4 linked regions of the Homo sapiens genome follow. The protein of the gene in region 1 interacts with the protein of each later gene in a pairwise test. Each region holds a gene or a part of one and is shown in the gene's direction. Other genes may lie near its edges.

Region 1 (7,028 bases):
CATGGGGAAGCTATACAAACTTGTTTGGAATAGAAAAAGGAAAATGTCCAACAGTTAGGCCAGGAAGGGAGATTCTTTTTGATATACACCCTCACTGCAGGTTTACTGTAGGTGGTTATTTAATAAAGCCTTATTGAATTTATCTATTTGATGGGATTTTTAAGGTCTAAATAAATAGCATTAATCAATTATTTGTAGAATGGGGATTTTTATTGGTATTGGGAAGAAAGAGAAACCATTCTGTCTTACCTTAGTGTGGGGATGGTTTGAACACCCAGTGGCAGCCTGACAGTTCAGGGTGTCGTGGAGCCCAGATGAGGTGGCAGTAGTGGAAGAGCAGTTGAACCAGGAACTTGCAGGGCCCCGTGAGAGCTTCAGCAGCAATGGCACAGGATGAAAATAGTGGTTGTGTTTCTAGGGTCTCAATTGTGGTATCAGGTTTGATTTGAAAGGTAAATTTTTGTCCAGTGGAGCCCATTTTTATTTATGCAGTTTTTCCTGGCACAGGTTCAACCCAAAATCTTTTGCTATGATTTCTGATCCTCCTGTGCTTGGGAGATATTATTCCTACTGAGTCCCATAAGAAGAGTGAACCCTTGCATTTTACCTAGACTCAAATAATCCACCTGTTTGCTTAGTCTAATCTGTTAACACACCCTCGCTGAAGCCCATAACTTCTACAGAGGGTTAATGACTTTTATACAGTACTCAATACAGTTGATGAATGAATGAATGAGTGAATATGAATTCAGTTTCAGTGATATGGGTCATGTCACTGTGGAGATGATCTTTTATTTCAAATACAGTATGAGAACCTTACAATAGTATACTTTCATTTCTTTCCTTCTGGCCTTTTCATTATTGTCTTTTAATAAATTTTAAACCCTAGAATATATTTAAAAAAATACTTTCTCTTTAAATACTTTTCTTTTAAATAATAATAAAGATCTGTTTACTCAGATAATTACCATTTCTGGTGTATTTCCATCTATCATTTTTCTTTTGTCTAAAGGACTTTAGCATTTCTTATAATGTGAGTTGGCTGACAATGACTTCTTTCAGCTTTATTTAAAAAATATTTTTTATTTGTTTCTTGTATTCTGAAGTTGTGCTTGTGGATCAGTGGGTTTACAATTTTCATAGAATTTGGAGCTTTTTGGCTATTCTTCAGATACTTTTTCTGTCCCCCCATTCTTTCTTTGGGGACTCCAGTATACACATTGACTGGCTTAAAGTTGTCCACTGCTGCACTTTTAATTTTTTAAGGTTATTTTTTCTTTCTGCATTTTATTTTGGATATTCCAATTACTTTGTTTATAATTTCATTAATATTTTCTTTTTCAATATCTAATCTGCCAGTAATTCCGTCTAGTGTGTTTTTCATCTCAGACATGTTTTATCACTAGACATTTGTTTTGGATCTTTTTTATATCTTCCATGTCTCTATGCAACTTTTTTAGTATATGAAATAACAGCTATAATGACAGTTTTAGTCCTCTTTTCTGTCATTGTTGGCATGTGTGACTATTCTGAGTTTGCTTTTCTCCCTCACTTCGGTCAGTTTTATTTTCATTTTTGTTATTATTTTTTACTTATTTTTGAGTACAGATCTTGCTCTGTTGCCCAGGCTAGCATACAGTGGCGTGATCACAGCATACCGCAGCCACGAACTCCTGGGCTCAAATGATCCTCCTGCCTCAACCTCCCAAGTAGCTGGCACTATAGACCATGCCTGGATAAGTTTTTCTTTCATTTTGTAGAGTCGGGGTCTTGCTATTGCCCAGGCTGGTCTCAAACTCCTGGGCTTAAGCAATCCTCCCATCTTGGCCTCCCAAATTGCTGGGACTGCAAGTGTGAGCCACTGCACCTGGCCCAGTTTCATTTTTAAGTAAAAGTTTATTTCAGACTAGTTTTAGATTTACAGAAAAATTGTTAAGCTAGGATGGAGTATTTTCATATACCTGACACCCAGTTTCTCATATTGTTATTATTTATAGATTTAGTACAAGTGCAGTGTTGTTACACCACCTGAATAGTGCACATAAGCACCCATGAGGTAATTTCTCATCCCTCACCCACTCCCATCCTCCCACCTTTCTGAGTCTCCAATGTTATTATTCCACTCTCTATGCCCCTGTGTACATATTTTTCAGCTCCCACCTGTAAGTGAGAATATGTGATATTTGACTTGCTCTTTCTGAGTTATTTCACTTAAGATAGTTACCTCCAGTTCTATCCATGTTGCTACAAAAAAACATGAATTCATTCTTTTTTTATAGCTGAGTAGTATTCCATGATGTGGATTACTTTATCCAATCATCCGTTGATGGGCACTTAGATTGATTTTATGTCTTTGCTATTGTGAGTAGTCCTGCAATAAATATTTGAGTACAGGTATCTTTTTGATATAATGATTTCTTTCCCTTTGCGTAGATCCCCAGTAGTGGGATCACTGGATCAAATGGTATTTCTATTAGTTCTTTGAGAAGTCTCCATATTGTTTTCCATAGCAGCTGTACTAGTTTACACTCCCAACAACAGTCTGTGAGCATTCCCTTTTATCTGCATCCTTGCCAACATCTGTTATTGATTTTTTTGACACCTGAGTAATAGCCATTCTGACTGGTGTGAAATGGTATTTCATCGCTTTTATTTGCATTTCTAACTTTTTAAATGTTTCTTGGCCATTTGTATGTCATCTTTTGCAAAATATGTGTTCATGCCCTTTGCCCATTTTTTAAAAAGGTTATTTTTTTCTTGTTGAGTTCTTTGTAGAGTCTACAAATTAGCTTTTTGTAAGATGCATAGTCTGCAGATATTTTCTCCTGTTCTGTAGATTGTCTGTTTTCTCTGTTGATTATTTATTTGCTGTGTAGAAGCTTTTTATTTTAATTAAGTCCCATTTGTCTATTTTCATTTTTGTAGCTTTCCTTTTGAGGTCCTAGGCATGAATTCTTTGCCTTAGGCCAATGTCCAGAAGAGTTTTTCCTAGGTTTTCTTCTAGAATCTTTATAGTTTCAGATCTTTCAGGTCTTTATACTTTCAGGTCTTTAATCCATCTTAAGTTGATTTTTGTATATGGTGAGAGATATGGGTCCAGTGTCATTCTACTGTATATGGTTACCCAATTCTCCCAAGTATCATGTATAGAATAGGGTGTTCTTCCACTAGTGTATGTTTTTGTTGACTTTGAAGAAGATCATTTGCCTGTAGGCATGTGTCTTTAATTTGGGTTCTGTAAGCTGTTTCATTGACCTGTGTGTCTCTTTTTATAATAGTTTTGGTTGTTATAGCCTTATAGTACAATTTGAAGTCAAGTAATTTGATGCCTCAAGTATTGTTCTTTTTGCTTACCATTGCTTTGGCCATTCAGGCTCTTTTCTGGTTCCTTGGGTATTTTAGGATTGTTTTTTCTAATATTGTGAAAAACAATGTTAGTATTTTTATAGGAATTGCATCTGCAGATTTCTTTGAGTAGTATGGTCATTTTAATGATACTGATTCTTCTAACCCATGATCATGTTTGTGTCATATGTGATTTCTTTCGTCAGCGTTTTGTAGTTTTTCTTGTAGAGATCTTTCACATCCTTGGTTGAGTGTATTTCTGAGTATTTTATTATTTTTTTGTAGCTATTGTAAATGGGATTGACTTCTTGGTTTGGTTCTTGATTTGGTTCTCAGCTTGATTATATCATTGTTGTATAGAAATGCTACTGATTCCTCCTCACAACAAAAAATACAAAAATTAGCTGGGTGTGGTGGCACGTGCCTGTAAGTCCCAGCGACTTGGGATGCTGAGGTGGGAGGATCACTTGAGCCCAGGAGGTCGAGGCTGCGCTAAGCTATGACTGCGCCACTGTGCTCCAGCCTGGGTAACAGAGTGAGACCGTTTCAAAAACAAACAAAGAAACAAACCCCAACTAAACAAAAGAAATACTACTGATTTTGTAGGTCGATTTTGTATCCTGAAACTCTACTGAATTAATTTATCAAATTTACGAGTGTTTTGGAGGAGTCTTAGGGTTTTCCAGGTATAAAATTATATCAGCAAACAGAGATAGTTTAACTTCCTCTTTTACAATTTAGATGTCTTTTCTTTCTTTCTATTGCATTACTGCTCTGGCCCGATAGGACTTTTAGTACTGTGTTGAGTAGGAGTGGTAAGAGTGGGGATCCTTGTCTTCTTCCATTTCTTAAGGGGAATGCTTTCAACCTTTCCCCATTCAGTATGATGTTGGCTGTGGGATTCTTGTATATGGGTTTTATTATTTTGAGGTATGTTCCTACTACACCAAGTTGTTGAGTGGTTTTTATCATGAAAGAATGCTGAATTTTATCAAATGCTTTTTCTGTATCTATCGAGATAATATGGTTTTTGTTTTTAATCCTGTTTATGTGGCAGATCACATTTATTGATTTTTGTATGTTAAACCCTACTTGTATCCCTGGAATATAACCCACTTGATTGTGGTGTACCATGTTTTTTGATGTGCTGTTGGATTTGGTTTGCTAGTATTTTCTTGAGCGTTTTTGCATCTGTGTTCATTAGGGGTACTGATTGATTCTGTTTCTGTTTTTGTGTGTCCTTGCTTGGATTTGGTGTTAGGGTGATACTGGCTTCAGTTAGAGAGGATTTTCTTCAATTTGGGGGAACAGTGTTGTCAATAGGATTGGTACCTATTCTTCTATGTCTGGTAGAATTTGGCTGTGAATTCATCTGCTTCTGGGGTTTTTTGTTGTTGGGAGATTTTTTTTTATTTTTATTACTGGTTAAGTCTTACTGGTTATTGGTCTCTTCAGGCTTTCTCTTTCTTAGTTCATTCTTGAGAGGTTGTGTGTCTTTAGGAATTTACCTGTTTCATCTAGGTTTTCTAGTTCGTTAGTGTAGAGATGTTCATGGTAGACTCTGATGATCTTTTGTATTTCTGTGGTATCATTTGTAGTGTCTTTTTCATTTCTGATTGTGCTTATTTGAATTTTCTTTCTTCTTGGTTAATGTAGCTAGTAGGCTGTCAATTTTGTTTATCTTTTCAGTGAAGCAACTTTTTGTTTCTTTATCTTTTGGGTTTTTATGATCTGGATTTCATTTAGTTCTGCTCTTCATCATTTCTTTTCTTCTGGGTTTGGTTTGTTCTTGTTTTTCTAGTTCCTTGAGGTACTATGTCAGGTTAACTTGTGGTCTTTCTATTTTTTTCGATTTAGGCATTTAACGCTATAAACTTTTCTTTCTTGAATCCATTTACAGTCAACACTATAAGCTTTTGCTGTATTCCAGAGGTTTTGGTATGTTGTGTCTCTACTTTTGTTTAAAAAATTTTTAAACTTCCATCTTAATTTCATCACTGACCCAAAAATCATTCAAGAGCAGGTTAATTTCCATGTATTTGTATAGATTTGAGAGTCCTTCTTGGAATTGACTTTAGGTTTTTTCCACTGTAGTCTGAGAAGACAACTTGAAATGATTTCAGTTTTTTAAAAATTTATTGAGACTTGCTTCATTCCTTAAGATAAGGTCTGTCTTGGAAAATGTTCCACATGCTAATAAGAAGAATGTATATTCTGTGATTGTTGGGTAGCTTGTTATATAAACATCTGTTAGGTCTATTTGTTCTACAGTCCAATTTAAATCCAGTGGGGTTTTTTTTTTCTTTTTTTTTCTGTCTCAGTGGTCTGTCTAGTGCTGTCAGTGGGGTGTTGAAGTCCCCTCTTGTGCTATAAAGGAATGCCCAAGGCTGGGTAATTTATAAATAAGAGATTTTATTTGGCTCACTATTCTGCAGACTGTACAAGAAGCACAGTGGTTGTGTAAAAGTGCCTGGCCTCCTCTCTTCAGCCTGGCTTGTTGGCTGGTAGCAGCAGCTGCTCAGGGCTCGGAAGCCTGTGTACTCCCATGTGAGTTTGAGCAATGCCTCTGTCAATCTCCAGGCAACTCACTCTATTAGGCTGGAGACCTGCGAGGGTCAAGGGGGTCTCCCACAGCTAGCGTTGCAAAAGTCCATGGTGGGAATGTGGAGCCCTGGGAGTCTCTCATCTACCCTTTCCCAGCATCTAGAAGCTTCTTTCATCTCTCAGCAATCCTGGCTGAGCACGTGCCTTGCTTCCTTCTCCTTTGTGATCAGTGATTCCTGTTGCTTTTCAGTTGAATTCCAGTGTTCTGTTTTAGATGACCTATTTGAAGGGTGAATATCTACTCGCCGTTTTGGAGCTTTCCATGGAAGAGGCATGTACTAGCTGCATCTAGTTAGCCATCTTGAACCAAGCTTCCAGTTTCTCATATTATTAACATCTTAAAATAGTGTGCTGCATTCATCATAGTTAGTGAACTAATATGAATACATTATAGTTTTAAAGTCCATGCTTTATTCAGATTTCCCTACTTTTTAACTAATGTCCTTTTTGTGTTCCAGGATCTCATCTCTAGGATGTAGCATATTACATTTTGTTGTTGTATCTCCTTAGGCTCCTCTTGGCTATGACAGTTTCTCAGACTTCCCTTGTTTTAGATTACCTTGACAGTTTTGAAGAATACTGATCAGGTATTTTGTGGAATGTCCTTCTATGGGAATTGTCTGATATTTTTCTCATGACTAGACTAGGGTTATAGGTTTTGGGATGGAAGTCCACAGATACAATGTACCAGTTCATCACAACAGATCGAGTATACTATCAACATGATTTATGACTGATTTTCTTGACCACCTGGCTGATATAGTGACTATCAGGTCTCTCCACTATAAAGTTACTCTTTTTCTCCCCTTTTGTACTTCATTCTTTGGAAGGAAGTCACTAGGCATAGCCCACTTTAAAGAATGGGGAGTTGTGCTCCCCCTCCTTGAAGGTGGAGTCTTTACATGAATTATCTGGAATTCTTCTACATGTCTGGAACCCAAATTGCAAGATTGTCCAAAAAATACATTTTTCAATTTTCTGCCCTGTCCTCCTTGATAAAGGGATCCTGAAAGAAATGATCTGTATCCCAGGATTCCTGAAAGGTGATAAGTAAGAAGGTAATTCAATGATCAACTTAT
Region 2 (5,586 bases), on another chromosome or scaffold:
GAATACTCTTTTCCAAAAGACCCTGGTTTGGTGGGATGGGGTGAGTTCTTCACACTTCACTTACGACAATTTCACTGCTTCTACCAAGTCCTCAGAAAGTTTTAAAATGAGGGTGCAGAGGCAGGAATTATGCTGGTTTCTGTTTATCTTTTACATACAGAACATGGAAGGATTTTCATAGCTCGTGACTATATTTACCCAGTAGCATTAAAATTCTATCAGGCAAATGTATCAACCGTTGAGGTTGCCCACTGAAGACCTTTGGCTTCAGCATCACTAAACTATCACACGTCTGGGTTAGGTTTGCATCTGAATTGCGATTTCCCCATTTGAAAATCACCTCTTTAGCAGTTAGCTAAATGTGACTGCAGTGACTCACACCTGTAATCCCAGCACTTTGGGAGGCCGAGGCAAGTGGATTACAAGGTGAGAAGTTCGAGACCAGCCTGACCAACATGGTGAAACCCCATCTCTACTAAAAATACAAAAATTAGCTGGGGGTGGTGGCGGGTGCCTGTAGTCCCAGCTACTTGGGAGGCTGAGGCAGGAGAATCACTTGAACCTGGGAGGCAGAGATTGCAGTTGAGCTGAGATCACACCACTGCACTCCAGCCTGGGCGACAGAGCAAGACTCCATGTCAAAAAACAAAAAACATAGGCATAGAAGCAGGACTGGAAAGGTACCCTGTAAGCAGCACGGACAGTGAGTGGTGTGGGGGACCGAAGAGTCCTCCTTATCAGAGTGGCTTTCAGTACATTTCTGTGGGGCTCCACCCATGTGTCAGACACTGCTAGGAGTGTGGGTTCCTTGCGGTCTCTACAAACCCCGTGTGAGAATGAGTGCCATGTGGGAGGGAGAAGCCATGTGATCTGTACATATCAGCTGGGGTGGGGAAGGGAGGTCCGTGATGGCTAATGGGGTGTGCTGGGGAAGGAGGTGTGTCCAGGTCCCAGCTCTGCCTAACAGCTCCCTCCCTCATGCTCCAGAATGACTTGAGCCTGCATTTTCCCTTTCTCTGATGCTACTCTACTCAGCAAATGACCTCACGCCTATTGTAGGGAAAAAACAGCAGCCATCAGGTGGGGACTCCTGGAGCCTTTAATCTCCAAGCCTCCCCTCGTCCTGTTTCCCTCCTCTCCAACACCAGTGTCTTCCTCTGGGCTTTGGGTGTCTTCTCCCTGATCTTCTCCAGACCTTTACACTGGCCAGGATCCTGTCTTGTATTTGTATTCCTCCTTTTAGGTGGATCCCCGCATTGATATTCAGATGTGCTTGTCTCCTTCCCCTTCATAAACTTCCCTTTTTTTGAGATGGAGTCTCACATATTGCCCAGGCCAGAGTGTAGTGGCACAACCTTGGCTCACTGCAACCTCCACCTCCCAGATTCAAGCAATTCTCCTATCTCAGCCTTCTAGGTAGCTGGGATTCAGGCGTCCACCAACATGCCCGGCTAATTTTTCTATTTTTAGTAGAGACAGGAGTTTCGCCATGTTGTCCAGGCTGGTCTGTAACTCCTGACTTCAGGTTTGGGAGGCCAAGGAGGGTGGATTGCCTGAGCTCAGGAGTTTGAGACCACCGTAGGCAACGTGGTGAAACCCGGTCTCTAATTTAAAAAAAAAATTAGCCAGGCGTGGTGGCGGACGCCTGTAGTCCGAGTTACTCAGGAGGCTGAGACTTGAGAATTGCTTGATCCCAGGAGGTGGAGGTTGCAGTGAGCCAAGATCACGCCACTGCACTCTAGCCTGGGCGACAGATCAAGACTCTGTCTCAAAAATTAAAAAAAAAAATGTGACTCTGTTCATGTGTCCTTCTGCTTAGCATCCTTTAATAGCTTCTCATTGTTCTTACGATGAAAACCCAAACCCCAGTATGGCCTTCAAGGCTCCATGTGGTCTGGCACCTCTTACTCACAAACTGCATCTTGACTTCTGTGCCATGCTGCCCTTTTAGGGTGAATGTCCCATGCTCCCTGTCACCACAGGGCCTCTGCATATACTGTCCCCTCTGCCTGGAATGGGCCTTCCCATCCTTCAGCTCATTAATTCCTGCGTAATTTCAGATCTCAGCCAATCTTCACTTTTTTGTCTAAGCCTTTTTATTCGTGTGAGTCTTTAAAGTCTGTCCCATCAGACCTGAAGCACTGTAAAAGGGCAAAGACAGTTACAATAACCTTTGTATTCTCCAGCTCCTAGCACAGCACTTGACATGTAGTAGGTGCTTCGACAGATACCCAGTGGGAATTGTGTGCAGGGTAGAGGAAGTAGCGTCTGCAGGGCGTGAGAAACAGTAGCATTTTGGAGAAAACTAACATATTGATGGCTAAAGTGTGGGTTTTGCAGAAGACAAGTGGTAAGAGATGAAGCTGGAAGGGCAGGCAGGACCCAGGCTGTGAAGGGCCCTATTTGGCCAATATTGGTACTAGGACCCATAGGATGTGGGCAGTCAGTAGTCTCCCCGACTTGGGGAAAGAGGAATAAGCATAGGATGAGGCGTGAGCCTTGAGAGATGGGTGGGGCTTGGCCCACTTCTGATTCCCCTGCGTAGAAGATGTAATGAGTTTTAACACTTCTTTATATGTTTTTCATCAGCTACATCTGGTACCTTGGCTGGCATTATGGGAATGAGGTTCTACCACTCTGGAAAATTCATGCCTGCAGGTTTAATTGCAGGTGCCAGGTACTTTCATTCTATTACTCTTCTTTACCATGTAGAGTTCAGTTTATTCCCCAGGATACCTTATGCATTCAAAACCTTACTTGTTTCAGGATATCTGATGCTATGTATCAACTGACATTTGATATATACACTAATAGGAAATGTTTCAAAAACAATAGCTAGTTTAATGTCAAAATGGCATGAGTATATCCATTCACCGTGGAAATGGGTTTGTTCTCATATTTGCTTTCCAGTCCATCCAAACTCCTCCCTATATGGTGGCAGAAGTTTTAGTGCAAAGCCATGACTGCAGCCTTTTGTGTGACTTGCATGGAAGATTTGGGGGCCCCATATTTCTTAGATGTGTAGATGTCTTTTACAGAAAATTTTGCTAAAAGAGAATTTTGATTGAATCCTGTTTTCTATTTTTTGTTGTTGTTATTGAGACGGAGTATCACTCTGTCACCCAGGATGGAGTGCAATGGCGTGATCTCCGCTCACTGCAATCACCATCTGCCTCCCGGGTTCAAGCGATTCTCATGCCTCAGCCTCCGGAGTAGCTGGGATTACAGGCGTGCACCACCATGCCCAGCTATTTTTGTTGTTTTGGTAGAGATGGTGTTTCACCACATTGGCCAGGCTGGTCTGGAACTCCTGATCTTGTGATCCGCCCACTTCGGCCTCCCAAAGTGCTGGGATTACAGGCGTGACCCACTGCGGCTGGCCCTGTTTTCTAATTTTGATTATAAAACCTAAACCAAATTGTGGTTTTTAAAAAATTTAGTTGTGGCTGGGCACAGTGGTTCACACCTGTAATCCCAGCAATTTGGGAGGCAGAGGCAGGCGGATCACCTGATGTCAGGGGTTCAAGACCATCCTGGCCAACATTGCGAAACCCCGTCTCTATGAAAAATACAAAAATTAGCTGGTTATGGTAGTGGGCACTTGTAATCCCAGCTACTCGGAAGGCTGGGGCAGGGAGAATTGCTTCAACCTGGGAAGCGGAGATTACAGTGAGCTGAGATCATGCCACTGCACTCCAGCCTGGGGGACAGAGCAAGACTCCATCTCAAAAAACAAACAAACAAACAAACAAAACTTTAGTTGTAGGCCAGGTGTGGTGGCTCATGCCTACAATCCCAGCACTTTGGGAGGCCAGAGCGGGCGGATCACTTGAGGTCAGGAGTTCAAGACCAGTCTGCCCAACATGGTGAAACCCCATCTCTATGAAAAATACAAAAATTAGCCGGGCATGGTGGTGCACACCTGTAATCACAGCTACTTGGGACACTGAGTCAGGAAAATCTCTTGAACCTGGGAGACGGAGGTTGCAGTGAGCCGAAATTGTGCTGCTGAACTCCAGCCTGGGCAACAGAGGTGAGTGAGACTCCATCTGAAAAAATAAAAATAAAAAACCTTCTCAAAAACAAAAAATTTAGTTAAGTATCATAAAGACATCCTGAAGGTAGGGGAATTTTTAAAAATCTGTTTTGGAGAAAGATTACATACTCTGATCATAGTTGTGATGCTACCAGTATAATGTTTTATACCTGAAGCAAGGAAGTCAGTGTGGAGCAAGGTCTAGAGCAGTAAACTGAGACGCTGGAGAGTCTACCATTAATCAGATCTGTGATGGTGGGGAGGCCTTGCTCTCTCTTGCCTCCATTTCTTCATCTCTTCAAATTATTGGCAGTTGGGTTAGGATCCAGCTCATGTGTGCTATTTTAAGACTCCCTTGGCTTGCTTTTTCTCTGGTTCCTCCAGGGATGGAAATTTACCCCTGACCACTCTTGCCTTAGTACCTCCTCCCCCACGCAGTTGTGAGGAACCAGCAGTTTAGTTCCTTAAAAACATAGTTGCCTGTTCTGTCCTTTACCTGACATTTTCTATCTTGTTTCTTTTAAACAGTTTGCTGATGGTCGCCAAAGTTGGAGTTAGTATGTTCAACAGACCCCATTAGCAGAAGTCATGTTCCAGCTTAGACTGATGAAGAATTAAAAATCTGCATCTTCCACTATTTTCAATATATTAAGAGAAATAAGTGCAGCATTTTTGCATCTGACATTTTACCTAAAAAAAAAGACACCAAACTTGGCAGAGAGGTGGAAAATCAGTCATGATTACAAACCTACAGAGGTGGCGAGTATGTAACACAAGAGCTTAATAAGACCCTCATAGAGCTTGATTCTTGTATATTGATGTTGTCTTTTCTTTCTGTATCTGTAGGTAAATCTCAAGGGTAAAATGTTAGGTGTCAGCTTTCAGGGCTCTGAAACCCCATTCCCTGCTCTGAGGAACAGTGTGAAAAAAAGTCTTTTAGGAGATTTACAATATCTGTTCTTTTGCTCATCTTAGACCACAGACTGACTTTGAAATTATGTTAAGTGAAATATCAATGAAAATAAAGTTTACTATAAATAATATTTCCTATGGGGTCTTCATTGCCAGAGCTGTCTAGTTCATAGAATGAGATATTGCTAGCAGCAAGATATAGAAACATGAAAGTATTTTGTTAATATTTAGAAATTACCTATTTTGAATAACTTAAGGACCAAGGAAACTTATTTGATTGTACATTGCATTGAAGCTTGTTTCAAAAATGACCTCTGAGGATTTTTTTTGTTTTTCAAGAGACAAGGTCTTTCTCTGTTGCCTAGGCTGGAGGGCAGTGGTGCAATCATATGTCACTGTAGCCTCAAACTCTTGGGTTCAGTCATCCCACCTCAGCCTCCTGAATAGCTGGTACTACTGGTGCATACCACCACACCCAGCTAATGTACTTTTTTTTTTTTTGGAGATGCAGTCTTGCTCTGTTGCCCAGGCTGGTCTCAAACTCCTGGTCTCAAGTGATCCTCTCGCTTTGGCCTCCCAAAATGTACTGGAGTAATAAGCATGACCTACTGTACCTGGCCACTGAGGTTTTCTTCTTT
Region 3 (7,925 bases), on another chromosome or scaffold:
CCTCTCCTCTCCTCTCTCCTCTCCTCTCCTCTCCTCTCTCTCCCTCTCCACCATCTCTCTCCCCCTACCCCCACCCTCTCTTCCCCTTCTCTCTTGGAACATCCACTCTCATGATTTCAACTATGACTCAGAGGTTATCAAAAATTGTAATGGCCAAGAGACTCCAGCATACAGATCTCTCTCTAATCAAAATGCATCTCTCCTTCTCTCACACTCTTATCACATTTGATTTCTACAGAGATGGCACATACCACAGGCAGCCTAGAATTATACTCATTTGTGTTTTTGGCCATCTCCTCCTGATCCTCCCACCCCCATACCAGAACCAGAGCTCCTTGAGAACATGTACCTCATTTTACCTCTGTCTTTCCCATAGCCTTCCAGGTAAAGTTATTATAACATATGTTCTAGATATTTCCTTTCAAATTATATTCTCTGCTGTCCCCCAAAAAATGCCTTCCAATTCAGAGTTAAGAAAACAAGTACCTTCCACATAGTACATGTTCAATAATAGTTGTTGAGTGAATGAATGACTTAATTATAATTTGTTGAACTGAATGGTTCCCACATCTATAATCTAAGCCCTATATATGTTGTTTGCTATAGGACACACACACTTGGGTATCTCATTGATGTCTGGAATTTAGTATGCAGGAAAAGTTTACTATTTTTTCCCTGACAGAGATAAATAAGATGTACAAATACCATTATTGCTGACACCCTTCCATTGCCCTACTCCTCCAGTTTGTTCCAGTCCTCTCCCTCCTGGCCCTTCACATCTAATATTCGTAATTGTCTTGATGACAGTTTCTTTGCAAGGTTTGCTGTTTCCTTGGGGCTTTAAGAAGGAAAGGGGGAAGAGGCATGATTTCTAATCTCTTTATCTGAGTTAGGAGGAAAGGAACGAAGGAAGGGAGAGAAGGAGGGAAGGAGGGAGGGAGGGGAGAAAGGAGGAATAAAGGTAGGAAGGGAGGGAGAGGGAAGAAAATGAGGGAGGGAAGGTAAGTGATATAGTGGAAAAAATGCAGGCTTGGAGTCAGACAGACCTAGGGTTGAACTCTGGCTCCATCGCCTGCCGGCTATGACTATGGATAAGTCTTTCTGAACCTCCATTTCCTCATATGTAGAATGAGGATGCTAGCACCTAGCTTGTTGTGAGAAGACAATGAAGCAATGCATGTAAGGAACCCAGCAGAGTGCCCTCATTGTCGTTATTGAGAATTAAAGTATACGTGTATTTGGAAGGTGTGAGGTCCACTCCAATTGGCTGAATTTTCTTTATGAAGTGAACAAATGGAATTACCTGCTGAGAGTAAGTGGAACACGAAAGTCACTCAATCTCAATGGAAAGGAGTAGTGATCTGAAGCCCTGGATGTCTAAACTTACTAATAAAATCATTGGGAAGTGACTGGCTTCACATAGTTGTACACAAGTTAACTTTGTCCATATGTATTCTCTGTAGTGTGCCCTTTTTGTCTTTCTACATGTCCAACTTTATCTCCAGCAAGGCTGTTAACAACCTTAGAGTGGAGACCAGGACTAGTTTGTTCAGCACCTAGGACAGCACAGGAAATCTGTTTCTGCGATTTAATCCATCTATCTCCGTTCCGTCCTCCCCCACTGAGCTAATGCCTCATCCACATCCCACTTGAATCTTTTGCTATGTTTTCAGTTGCAATAACAGAAAATCCCAACTTAGATGACTGTTTTTAAAAAAGGAAATATATTATCTTGCATATAAGTTCAGTAGTGGGTGGCTTTGGAGCTGATTAATTCAGCAGTTCAACAATGTCATTAAAAAATCCTGATTCTTTCCATCTTTCTGATTTGCAAACCTCAGCATGTTATTTAGCAACTTTCATGGTCACAAGGTGGCTATTGCCGGTCAGGCATTGTTTCCAGACATGGCAATATTCAATGGTAAAAGAGGAAGGCCTCTTCCTGTATGCTTATTTTTATCATTCAAGAAAACTTTCCCAGAATCTCTCCAGCATACCTCCTCTCACATCACAGTGGCCTGAATTTCACCATGCCTATAACTAGGCTGATCACTGGCAAGGGGGATAAAACGACCATGACTGGCATAGAGGAGCACAGACTCATGCGGAGGAGGATGAATTACCTTAAAAATGGGGATTCTTTCCACAAGGAGGAAGAGGGAGATGACTATTGAGTTGGTAAGCAATTCTGTCTGCTACAACCTTTTACTGAATAACCCACTCCTTCCTCATGCAGACATCTGATCATCATTTTCTAACTGGAAGGTCTGGTTGGGGATATCATCCGGGTGTACAGAATGAGGGTGGGTAAGGACCTAAAAATATTTCTTCCACCCATGTATTATAGGGGCCAGAAACTCCATTAGCTATGCATTCCTTTGCCTACTTACTGTTGCATCCTTGTAAAATGCAAGTATTCCAGGTCAAAGCAAAACTGGTGACAGTTCTCTTTGGGAAGCTACTAACTGGAAAGAGGCACAAAGAAATTTTCTGGGGGGATGGAAATGTTCTATATCTTAACCTGGGTGGTCGTTATATGCGCGTTTACGCAGGTGTATTAGTTTCCTATGGATGCTGTAATAAATTACCACAGACTTGGTGACTTAAAACAATGCACAGTTCTTCTCTTACAGTTCTGGAGGTCAGAAGTCCAAAATCAGTTTCAATGGACCAAAATCAAGGTTTCAGCAGGGCCATGCCTGAGCAGGAACAGCCATCTTGCAGCCATGAGAGACTTTAGGGGAGAATCGATTTCTTTGTCTTTTCCAGTTTCTAGAGCTGTATTCCTTGCATTCCTTAGCTCATGGCCCCTTCCTCCGTCTTCAAAGCCAGCAGCCTAACATCTTGCTTCAGGCCTCATATTTCCTCCTATCTCAGAGTCAAAACTCTCTCTGCCCCTCTCTCATAAAGAGACTGGTGATTACATTAGGGCCCACCTGGATAATCCAGAATGATCTCCCTATTTCAACATCCTTAATTTATTCACATCTGCAAAGTCTCTTTTTCATATAAGGTAATGTTCATCGGTTCCCAGGATTAAGACCTGACATCTTTGGGGGCATAATTCAGCTTGCCACAGTAGGTAAAAATTCATTGAGCTGCAGTTAAGATTTGTGAATTTTACCTCAGTCAAGAAATGCACAAACTTCTGGAAAAGAGTAATGATTTACATTCCATCATAATAATGAATTAAAGACCTAGCAGATCTACTCTTTTCCTACCGAGAGGCCCATGGATCTGAGTAGAAAGAGAAGATAAGCGGGATTGAGTACCTAAAAGGGAGGTAGGAGCCTCGAGTGTGGGTCTAAAGACAAAAACAGGCTGACCACTAGTCATTCTAGAGATCTGGGAAAGGTTTCCTGAATGATGAAAATAAGCATACAAGAAGAGAGGCCTTCCTTTCCTGCCATTGAATATTGCCATGTCTGGCATGAAAAGTAGATTCATTCTGACTTTTCGCCTTCCTCGCAGACACCAACCTTGGCATGTATACAAATCTTTCCTGTATGTCCAGCATCAGTTCCTATCCCACTGTGGTACCTGCAGAATCTGGGCTTCTTGCACTATCTGAAAGCCCCTGAGAAGGAGAGAGTTATAGTAACTAAACAACCAGGCCCTGAGATGCATATTGGCTAGGAATGGCAGGGGCTGACACTGTGAACTGTGCAAAGAGAATATGGGACAGCTGTCCAGGGCCCTCAGTGAGGGGCAGGAGTTAGGGAAGGCCCTGCCCAGCCCTCTGAGCCATAGCCATAGCCATCCTCTGAGGAATGGACACCCCATTGTGGGGGTTGGGGTTGAGGGCTGTGTCTATAGATAACTACTAATGTCCAGACTGCTGTAAGGGGAGGTGAAGGAGGTCAGAGTCCTGAAACCCCAGAGCTTATAGATTCTGTCTCTACATTTTCTATGCCCGTGAAGCCTGAGCCTAGGCCCTGTGGGAAGGACAGTCAAGAAAGGAAGATTACTTTGTTGTTGCTGTTGTGGGGGTCCTGGCAGCTGAAGAGACAGAAATATCTCTAATTCCATGAGCGGTCATACGAGGCAAGAGAAGCTGCTTAGAGCATGGACTTAGTTAGTTTCAGGGATTGGACAGAGTCAAGAGCTGGGGTGAGGAGGTTTACCCTCGGTAGGGGTGACACAGATGTCAACCGCCTATTCCCTCCACATGCATGTCCTGCCAGAAGAACCTGTCCCTGGGCTGGGAATCTTATATTACCTTCCTCTCCAATGAGAAGAGAAGTTCAAGGCTCACAGACATGTGCATACACAGCTCAATGCACTCAGATCCCCCTCCACCACTCCTGCCCCCACTACCTACAGGAGATTGACTCCTGCTGTGCACATAAGCTGGGATAATCAGGGTTTCTAAACATCAGCTTCAAAAGTCCAATGTCCCAAAGTGGTGGGGGGCTGGGGACGAGGTACTCTTTCCCATACCCTTGGCTTTTGTGTGGCCTGGAGCCGCTGATATAGAGATTGGAGTGGGACACGAGGTATTCCTTTCAAAAACACAAAGGCCTATACTTTGAGCCCTCCCATTTCAATCCCCCACCATGCTTCACCTTTAAGACCTCCAACTCCACTTTGATCCCAGTTCTCAGGTTCAAGGCCTCACAAGGCCAAAATCCTGAAGTTACCCTTCTCAAACTCCCTTGCCTTTAACATCATCAGAATCAACCTCCTACCCCCACTCTGTCCCAGCAGCAATAGCCTGCTAATCTTTTAGCCACTAATCTTTTAGGCACTAATCTGCTTTCCAAACTCTTGGCACCTGAACTATTTATAGCAGTGTTTTATGCCCCCCCACCAAGAACCCTATTCTTTTCCCATGACCCCCACCAATCAAAACACTCAGAGGACTGTGGGTATAAGAGGCTGGGGAGGCAGGCATAGCAACCAGAGCTGGAGACTGATGTGAACTTCATCTCTCTCCCCAGGTAATATTCCAAAGCCCTCTACTTCTAGCCCATACTAAGCCCTATATCCCTTGCTCTTAGCATCCCTCTTAATATATCAGGCAGCAGTTGAGGGACACCCTTCCTGACATAGCCTATAGACATTCAGGCCTAGAGACCCTCCAAAGACCTCTGGAAGCTCCCCTAAGCTCACCCCCTGGGCCAGGCTCAGTAAGCATCAAAGGAAAGCACTAGAGAGACATCTCCCTCTCTCTAAGGATTCCCATCCAAAGGCCTAGCCCCTGGGGACCTGGATGGGGATAAGGATGGGAAAATCTAGGAAAGGCAATGAGAGGGATGAGTTGGTTCAAGGAGGACTTTCAACCTCCATAGAGACTTCTGTCACCAAAAACTGAGAGCATGAAGGCACCAACCCCTTCTCTCTCACACTTTTCTCCCTTCTTTGTTGAGAGTCAAGGGCATCATGAGGTGAACTCAGGTTCAGGATCCATTGCAGGAGCAGAAGGAGACAGAATCCATTGATTTGTCCATTCATTCATTCATTCATTCATTCATTCATGTATCCAACAAACATGTCTTGGCACCTAGTGTGTGCCAGGGGATGTCTAGCCTCATACAGACCAAGAAACACATTTTTCTCACACTTTTCTGGATGGAAGCCTCTGTCCAGCCTCTTTCCAGAGAAGTTCCTTCTCTCTCAGGGTTCTCAAGAGTTCCCCAGCCATTCTAGGAAGTTTGGCCCTTTCTGGAGAATACATAGTATGGTTAGTCAATGATTTGTACAAAATAGGAAGGTTTTTTTCCCCTCTTGCCCAAGATGGGCAAGAATATGGCTGAAGAAGTACCCTTGGCAGAAGGGAGAATAGGAGGTACTTGATGTGGGTGAGGTGTCTGTCTAAGGAGGAAAGGTTACATCACACTAGGTGTATATGGATGGTATGCTGGAGTGGGGTGAGAAGAATAGAAATGAAATGATTGAGCCTTTCTTCTTTCCCTTTTCCCAGAAAAGGCTCAACATCAACTATATAGCCAACATGTCCAAGTAAGAATTCCTTCTAATCCTCTGAACCTGTGAATTGCTCCCTACCCCAATCCAAGTATTTCCCTTTGGGGTAGGGGGATTTCCAATTTCTCCCTAACTTGTGTCCTTGGATTCTACCCCAATTATCCCTACCTTTGCCCCATCCTATGCTCCTGGAGCCTCTTCTCCTAATCCTAAGAATATTTCTTTTTCTCCCCAATTCCCTTATTTCCTCTTCCCTGCACTTCCAATCCCCCTCTCCATCCTCTTTCTGGTTTTCTCCTCATAGGGTGTTTAAGAAGACCAGCTCCAATGGGAAGGTGAGAGAACCTGGCCCAGCTGGGCAAATGAGAGGGCAAAAGGGATAGGTGGGTACATCCTTCAAGGTCTCAGGGGTCTGGGTTGGGGGTTTCAGGGGAATCCATTCAAAAATGATTGTGAGAATAACATGGGAAGTTGTTCCACAACAGCTCTCCATCTACCTGGGGAAACGGGACTTCGTGGACCATGTGGACACGGTGGAACCCATTGGTCAGTGAGTCCAAAAAAGGGAAGCCTGGGGAAAGAGGAATGGAAACTAGGGAGTAAAAGAAAGTCCAGGAAAGACCGTGCAGAAAAGGAGGCAAATTAAAGGGAAGAATAGGAAGAACCATTTCAGGGATCATCCTCTGTTTCATAGTCTGAGAGTTTTTCCTGACCAAAGTGCTGTCTGTCCTTCTCTCCACAGACGGTGTTGTCCTGGTTGATCCTGAGTACTTAAAATGTCGAAAGTGTAAGTGGAAATCCTTGTTGGTCTTTGTATGTTTCAGACAGGTAACCCGATGAGTGGATTGCACCAGAGTACAACAAAACCAGAAAGTGGCAGGAACTGCGAATGCCTTCTCTGGTGGAGGCTGACAACTGGGAATTCCAGCCCAGTGTGGCCAAATTTTCTAATTGTTAATGAGGAGCTGTAAACGAAGCTCAAAATAAGACTTTTAGAGGCCCAAAGTGTGAAAAGATTATGGTGCCCCCTTACCCAAATAATATTCAAAGTAAATATCTAAAGCATAAATTAAATTTTATTTTTCAAAATTACACAAAACTTACACTTGTGCTGAAATTAAAATAGCTTCTTTCAGAATTTCAGATTTTCTCTATTATTACTGGTGGTGCCCCTGCTTGGCTATTGATCTGGATCTTAGACTGCCTATAGAATGATCCAGTAAGTCAGAAATCCATATTTTAAGGCAAATTTCCTGATTTTCAAATGTCAGCAACTCACTAAAAGACTTTAGAAGCCTGGATAGATTATAAACTTTTTTTTTTTTTCTGTTGGCTAGATGTGACTTTCAGGCTGTCATTTTGTAACCTCTGGTATACGTCTTTCCATCTCCTTTTTTTGTGTAGGGAAACTGGCTGACCTTTTATTCAAGAAAAAAAAATCCCAAACAAAGAAACAAAACAACAACCATAGGAAGTAACACTAAGAAACATTACTCTGGCAGCAGTATTACAGATCAAGATTATGCTGATTTTTTTTTTTTGCTGCTTTTTTTCCTTTTAATTCTCACTATGGATTAACCCCACTGTGATCCAACTAGACTGAAAATTGGGTTTGATTTGAAAAAGGCTCTGAATGGGTTGATGAATACTAGTTCAGATGTAACTGTTAGATATTGGAGAATAAAGTAGCCTAAATCTCTCAGATTAAGCAGTGTAAATAAGCAATCAAATCGGTTTTAAGTATCAGAGGAACTTTGGGATAGACTCATAAATTAACCAACTTATTTAAGGTTCCCAAGTATTCTATATTTCTAAAACCTAAATCATTTTTTCACATTTCTACAAAATCTTCACAAGCTATGGAAAGAAATCTTTAGTTAAAAATATATGTTGTTCCAGGAAGAGATGCATTTTTCCTTTTATTCTAATCTTCTTTTATGTCCCCTTAGTAGAGTTTTATATTACTTTTCATTTAAGTTGTGCATATTTCTTGTTTATTC
Region 4 (7,028 bases), on another chromosome or scaffold:
TCTCGGGTTCAAGCGATTCTCCTGCCTCAGCCTCCCAGGTAACTGGGATTACAGGCATGCACCACCATGACCGGCTAATTTTTGTATTTTTAGAGACGGAAGTTTCTCCATGTTGGTCAGGCTGGTCTCGAACTCCTGACCTCAGCTGATCCGCCCACCTCAGCCTCCCAAAGTGCTGCAATTACAGGCATGAGCCACTGCATCCGGCCCAGAAGACAGATTTTTAAGGACTTGACAAGCCAATGGGAAGTGGCAAAGTGGAGCCATGAGTCCAACCTACGTTTTCTTTTCTTTTTTTCTTTTTGAGACAGGGTCTTGCTCTGTCATCCAGGCTGGAGTGCAATGGTGCAATCACAGCTCACTGCAGGCTTGAACTGCTGGGCTCAAGTGATCCCCCTGCCTCAGCCTCCTCAGTAGCTGGGACTATAGGCATGAGCCACCATGCCCAGCTAATTTTTTTACTTTTTGTTGAGGCGGGGTCTCACTGTGTTGCCCAGGCTGGCCTCAAACTCCTGGGCTCAAACGATCCTCCCACCTCAGCCTCTCAAAGTGCTGGGATTACAGGCATGAGCCCCCATGTTCAGCCTAGCCTGACTTTTTAGGAGCCTTGATGATGAAGGGGCTGAGTCCATGATGGGAAAGTCTTGCCTACCTCAGAAAGATGAGCAGAAGAGCCAGGAGAAAAGGAGAGACTGAAGGAGCCCAGAGGAGTCCCTTGGGAGGGAGGGTGGGAGGAGGCGGCTGAGGGCTTTGCACTGCCGAGCAGGGGGAGCCTGGCAAGTCATGGACTTTGGGCCTCCACGTCCTCAATCATGCAGGCAATGCAGGGCTTCCCTTGTAAGGCTGTGGTGAGATGAAATAGGAAGTAATCCATGGAAGGCCCTTGGGCGGTGCCTGGCACACAGGAATCAGTCAGGACACATCTGCCGTTACTGTTGCTCTGATCATCCAGCGCCCGCGTGCCGGTGCACACCTCTTCCCTGAGAAGCAAGGAGGATGCGCCAGGGTACCGGCAGAATGTGGTGTGCTTGGAAGTTGGGGGAAGTATGTGGAGGGGATAGTTCCTCCCCAACCCCAGGGCCTCTCTTCTCTGTGAAGTAGGAAGCTGGGTGGAAGGAGAGGCAGTAAAGGGGAGTAGAGCGTGTTCAAGGGCAGTGGGGAGGGAGCTGAACTTGAAGATGCACAGGGATCATCCATCAGGCTGTGTCTAGGGTCTTGCAGAGGTTAAAGGTGCCAGACCCACAGCTGTGTGAGTCTCCATGCTCAGCAGCTTGGGTATGGGGTACAAAGGCAGGTTCCTGCGCTGACCCAGGGGTGAGGGTTCATGGGTGCAGGTGAGGGAGATGGAGTAAGGGTTAAAAGAGAACGGCTAGGCCAAGCATGATGGCTCACTCCTGTAATCCCAGCCCTTTGGGAGGCCAAGGTGGGTGGATCATTTGAGGTCAGGAGCTCAAGACCAGCCTGACCAACATGTTGAAACTCTGTCTCTACTAAAAATACAAAAATTAGTTGGGCATGGTGGCGCACACCTATAATCCCAGCTACCCGGGAGGCTGAGGCAGGAGAATCACTTGAACCCGTGAGGTGGAGGCTGCAGTGAGCCGAGATCGTCCCATTGCACTCCAGCCTGGGTGACAAGAGCGAAACTCTGCCTCACAAAAAAAAAAGAGAGAGAGAATGGCTAGCTTTGGAAAACAGTCTGGCTATTCTTCAAAAGGTTAAACATAGAGTTATGATATGAACCAACAGTACCACTCCTGGGCTTGTACCCAAGAGAAAGGACAACATCTTTTCACACTGAAACCTCTACACGAATGTGCATAGCAGCACTATTCACAATAGCCAAGAGCTACAAACAGCCCAGGTGTCCCTCAACTGATGGATGGATGAATAAAGTTTGAATATCATTCAGTCTTAAAAAGGAATGGAGTTGTAATACATGTTACAACATGGGTGAATGTTGAACATATTCGGTAAGAGAAGCCGGTCATAAAAGACCATATGTCATATGATTCAATTGACGTGAAATGTCCAGAATAGGCAAATCCAACAAAGAGGAAGTAGACCTGTAGCTTCCTAGGGTTGGGAGGGTCTGAGAAGAAATGGGGAGTGGCTGCTAATGGGTACAGGGGCTTGGCGGGGAAGTGATAAAAATGTTGTAAAATTGACTGGGGTGACGGTTTAACAACTTTGTGAGTGTACTAAAAAGCACTGAATTATATATTTTATTTGGATGAATTATATGGATGTGAATTAGATTTAGATAAAGCCGTTAAGAAGAGAGAAGATATGGCCAAAGCTATGGTTTGTAGAGAAAAGAAACAAAGATAAGAGGATGAGGATGGGCTGGGCACGGTGGCTCATATCTGTAATCCCAGCACTTTGGGAGGCTGAGGAGGGCAGATCACTTGAGGTCAGGATTTCAAGACCAGCCTGGATAATATGGTGAAACCCCCTCTCTACTAAAAATATAAAAATTAGCCAGGTGTGGTGGCACACACCTGTAATCCCGGCTACTCAGGAGACTGAGGCAGGAGAATCACTTGAACCCGGGAGGTGGAGGTTGCAGTGAGCTGAGATCACACCACTGCACTCCAGCCTAGGCAACAGAGCAAGACTCTATCTCACAAAAAAAAAAAAAAAAAAAAAAAAAAAAAAAGGATGAGGATGAATATATGGAGCAAACAGGAATGAGAGCTGAAATCTCCATGAGGTCAAAGAATGAATGAGGTGGAGGAAAGAGCTGAAAGCCGCTAGGACTGCAGGCTGTCTCCGGAGGGTGGTGGGAAGCATGTGCTTGAAGATGGTGCCCTGTCTCCAGTCTTCTCCTCTCCACCTAGGCTGATCATCTTCAGTGTTTTCACATCTTCCTCCTGTGCTATGATTTCAGGTCTTGTCTGTTGAGATCTCGGTGCTTGTTTTTTCTTGTCCTTCCTGCCCCATGGTCCCTGGTGGGTCACACTTCCCATCATTAACACCCTGGAGGCCAGGCACAGTGGCTCCCTTCTGTTATCTCAGCACTTTGGGAGGCCAAGGCGAGAGAATTGCTTGAGTCTGGGAGTTTGAGACCAGCCTGGGCAACATAGCAAGATCTCGTCTCTACAAAAAAAATAAAAATAAAAAATAAATTTAAAATTAGCTGGGTGCGGTGGCATGCACCTGTGGTCCCAGCTACTTGAGAAGCTGAGGTGGAAGGATCGCTTGAGCCCAGGAAGGGAAGGCTGCAGTAAGCTGTAATCACACCACTGCCCTCCAGCACTCCAGCACTCCAGTCTTCCAACCTGGGCGACACAGAGATACCTTGTCTCAAGATAATAATAACAACGCCCTGGCTCAGGAGTGTCGCCTTCTCTTCTCCAATGTCCTTGGGGCAAGGTCACCCTTCCAGGTAAAGGCCCAGCCCCAGCCACAGCCACTCCTCCCACAGCCTCTGTAAGGAGGATGTCAGGCCTCCAGCCAGTGGCCCATCACTCCTGTAAAGGACTTCCCAGACCCAGACCAGAGTCCTACAGCCTCCTTCCCATTTTGACTCAAGGACCCCAGCAGTATGGCCTGGCCCTGTAGCTGTCCAACAGAGGGCAGCAGCTCCCGAGCTGATGGGGATGGTGAGGCAGGGACACCTGGAGCTACCAGGCTGCTATGCACCGGTCCTCACCTCGCTCTCCCTGCCACCCTGCAGAGTACACGGTGGCAGTGCCCAAGTCCATGTTCCCCGGGCTCTTCATGCTGGGGACATTCCTCTGGAGCCTCATCGAGTACCTCATCCACCGCTTCCTGTTCCACATGAAGCCCCCCAGCGACAGCTATTACCTCATCATGCTGCACTTCGTCATGCACGGCCAGCACCACAAGGTGAGCGGGGCGGGGTCCCAGCCCGGACCTAGCATGTGCAGCCCGAGAGGGCCCGGCAGCCAGCCGCAGCTTCAGGTGCTGCGGAGCCTCCTGGGAGTCTGGCTGTGGGTTGGGAGGGACGGGACGTTTGATGTGACTCACGGGGCAACTGGGTTGGGCATCCGAACCTAAGCCAGGCGGGGACAGCGTGGGTGTGCAGCATCAAGCTGACCCCAGGCCCTCTGCACCCTTGTTTACGCATCACCTTTAATCCTCAAAACAACTCATTCATTCGTTCATTCATTCAGCAAATGCCCAGTGAGTGCCTCCTGTGTGCGAGACACTGTTCTAGACATCATTGAACAAAACAACAAAAAGCCTTGCGCTCCTGGAGCTTGTGCTGAAAACAGCCCCATGGTTCTCCCCGTTCCACAGAGCAGGAGACTGAGGCCTAGGAGGACTAAGGAACTTGCCCCAGGTCACACTTGGCACAGCCAGGATGTCGTACCCCATTCTGGGGATTCCAGAGTCTGCGCTCTCAATCACCCTTCCCCTGAGGCCCTTCAAGGACTCCACGACAGTCCCAGAAGCTGGCCCGAGAAGATAGGTCTGCCCAAAGGAAGCTACCTCCCCTGTACCCCCCGCTGCTTCTCTGTCCCTGCATTGTGCTGTCCTTGGCCCATCCCAGGCTGTTCCCCAGCCCGTCTCCACACTCTGTTCTCTGCTGGGCATAAATCAGAGAAAATATGGCAGATATGATACTTTCGGGACACCAGTTTAGACCCTGATGTCGCTGATACTGAACGTGGGTTTCACCTTGGTTTCCCAGCAGCAACTTAATCCGGTTCATCTCGATGAGCCGATTCGGGGTTTGATCGGCCGCCTGGGACAGTTCTCAGGTTGGTTGGCTGTGGTCCTCCCGGCTCTCCCCAGAGTTGATCTGCATCCTAGGGGGCTTTCCTAGGGGCCAGTATCAGGGTGGGTGCCCAGTCCTGGGCCAACCTGTCTCTCAGGTATGCTCTCAGAGGTAGCGCAGCCCAGGCCTGGCCTGTGTCCTCCAGCCTCACCTGGCCTCTGCTCTGCAGAGCTCACTGCATCTGCTTCTGTGTCCCTTGCCCTGTTTGTGAAGCCTTTTCAGATCCACTGCCCTGTCCGCTATCTTTCCCATCCACAGGGGACACCAGAACCTTCTGGGAACCTGCTCAGGCCATTCTGGGGCCCCAGGGGCTGTCTCAGGCTCCCTCTTTTGAGACACTTCCACCCCAGTCTGTCCAGTCCCCTGCTGCCACACCATGAGGACCCGAGGAGACTGTATGGCCTGTAGCCACGTGGGCTCCAATCAGGAACGTGTTCTCAGATCCCCAGACCTATCCATCTAAGGATCCTGATCCAGCTGTGACCCGGATCTGGCCCATACCAGCTCACAAGAGCACCCATGCACATCCTTTCCTGTTTCTGTTCCAGTGACGCCACCTCAGCGCTTGAAAGCGCCAGGGCAGTTTTCACACTGCAGGAATTGGCAAACACTACCAATCAGGGCTCTCCCTCCCTCCCTTTATTTCCCCCTCCCTCATTCCCCAGCTCTCTCCCTTCCTCCTTTTCCTGAGAGCTGGTTTTCCAGCACATCACTGGTCCTGTTGTTCCTGGTCTGAAGGGAGGGAGGCCCACGCCAGCATCTCATTGTGTCACTGTCACCTGCTTTCTCTCTCTCTCCTCCAGCCCAGAGAGGCTGCAGGATTCTCTTCTCAGACTCCTCACCAAGCCATAGCTAAGATCTCACCTCTATGCCAGGCCCTTGGCTTCTGAAGCTCGAGGGCCACGGTGAAGCGGTGTTCTCTGGTTCACTGTGGCGACACCCCCTTGGAACAAAAAAGGCCTCCTGTTTGGACATGGGGGTGGGGAGGACACCTCTAGTGACACTTCCGGGTCATCCCGCCACAGAGGCTGCATTAACCTCAGTTGCCCTCAGTGCCTTGCTCTCCCAGACAACATCAGGCCTCAGTCTAGGTGCCCTGTCTCCAGAATGCCCCTCTAGCCAGGGGCACGGCATTTAGGGATGGGATACCTGTCTAGCACCTGACAAATTCCAGAGTCACAGTGGCCTCTATAAGATGGGCTCTGAGCCGCCAGCACACCCCACCCATCCTGCCCATCCTGCCCATCCCGCCCATCCCATGTTCCTTTGCAATCTGCCAGGTCCCTTCCTGGCTCACAAATGGGAAGTAAGACAGTCTCTCCAGATCTTCCAGACGTGGTGGCCCGCCCTCCCCAAAGCCACCAAAGGTGCCAAGCCTACGCAGTGGAATGTCTGGGCCGCTGTGCCCCTGTCCTCTGCAGGGAGTGGCCAGGGTTTGGCCAGCTGCCGGGGCCCCTGGCTGCCTCCTGATGCCCAAGCCTCTCCATCTGCAGGCACCCTTCGACGGCTCCCGCCTGGTCTTCCCCCCTGTGCCAGCCTCCCTGGTGATCGGCGTCTTCTACTTGTGCATGCAGCTCATCCTGCCCGAGGCAGTAGGGGGCACTGTGTTTGCGGGGGGCCTCCTGGGCTACGTCCTCTATGACATGACCCATTACTACCTGCACTTTGGCTCGCCGCACAAGGGCTCCTACCTGTACAGCCTGAAGGCCCACCACGTCAAGCACCACTTTGCACATCAGAAGTCAGGTGAGGATGGGCCTGTGCTTCCCAGCCCCCTATGTGTGTTCATTGATTTATTTGCCAACTACCATCGAGCTCCTGGGAACGGCAAGGCACTGTTCCATGTACGGGGCATATACAGAGGGTTCCCTCTACTCTCTTCCCTGGTGCAGACAGCTGTGCAGAGACAGGCAAGGACATCAATAAATGGCAAAGATTTCAAACTGTGATAAATGCCATAAAGAAAATAAAGGGGCTGGGTGTGGTGGCTCACACCTGTAATCCCAGCCGAGGGGATTGGGAAGCCGAGGCAGGTAGATCACTTGAGGTCAGGAGTTTGGGACCAGCCTGGCCAACATGGTGAAACCTGTCTCCACTAGAAATACAAAAATTAGCGGGGTGTGGTTGTGCCCACCTATAATCTCAGCTACTTGGGAGGCTGAGGCATGAGAATAGCTTGAATCCAGGAGGCAGAAGCTACAGTGAGCTAAGATTGCACCACTGCACTCCAGCCTGGGCAACAGAGCAAGGCTCTGTCTATAAAAAAAAAAAAAAAAAGAAG

Evidence for each region.
Region 2: the proteins of MARCHF8 (region 1) and TMEM14C interact in binary tests that used the Homo sapiens proteins (3 or more experiments, as listed by UniProt).
Region 3: the proteins of MARCHF8 (region 1) and ARR3 interact in binary tests that used the Homo sapiens proteins (3 or more experiments, as listed by UniProt).
Region 4: the proteins of MARCHF8 (region 1) and FA2H interact in binary tests that used the Homo sapiens proteins (3 or more experiments, as listed by UniProt).

Annotation. Positions count from the first base shown.
Region 1 is NC_000010.11:45,525,345-45,532,372, reverse strand, and holds part of MARCHF8 (E3 ubiquitin-protein ligase MARCHF8), read left to right. Parts: intron 1-7,028. UniProt on the Homo sapiens protein: E3 ubiquitin-protein ligase that plays several important roles in innate immunity and adaptive immunity.
Region 2 is NC_000006.12:10,726,051-10,731,636, forward strand, and holds the end of TMEM14C (transmembrane protein 14C), read left to right. Parts: intron 1-2,589; coding exon 2,590-2,677; intron 2,678-4,564; coding exon 4,565-4,616; 3' UTR 4,617-5,077; downstream 5,078-5,586. UniProt on the Homo sapiens protein: Required for normal heme biosynthesis.
Region 3 is NC_000023.11:70,263,433-70,271,357, forward strand, and holds the start of ARR3 (arrestin-C), read left to right. Parts: upstream 1-4,901; 5' UTR 4,902-4,940; intron 4,941-5,923; 5' UTR 5,924-5,953; coding exon 5,954-5,961; intron 5,962-6,229; coding exon 6,230-6,260; intron 6,261-6,410; coding exon 6,411-6,471; intron 6,472-6,643; coding exon of another isoform or gene 6,644-6,667; coding exon 6,668-6,712; intron 6,713-7,925. UniProt on the Homo sapiens protein: May play a role in an as yet undefined retina-specific signal transduction. Could bind to photoactivated-phosphorylated red/green opsins.
Region 4 is NC_000016.10:74,715,812-74,722,839, reverse strand, and holds part of FA2H (fatty acid 2-hydroxylase), read left to right. Parts: intron 1-3,679; coding exon 3,680-3,852; intron 3,853-4,266; coding exon of another isoform or gene 4,267-4,590; exon of another isoform or gene 4,591-6,240; coding exon 6,241-6,493; intron 6,494-7,028. UniProt on the Homo sapiens protein: Catalyzes the hydroxylation of free fatty acids at the C-2 position to produce 2-hydroxy fatty acids, which are building blocks of sphingolipids and glycosphingolipids common in neural tissue and epidermis.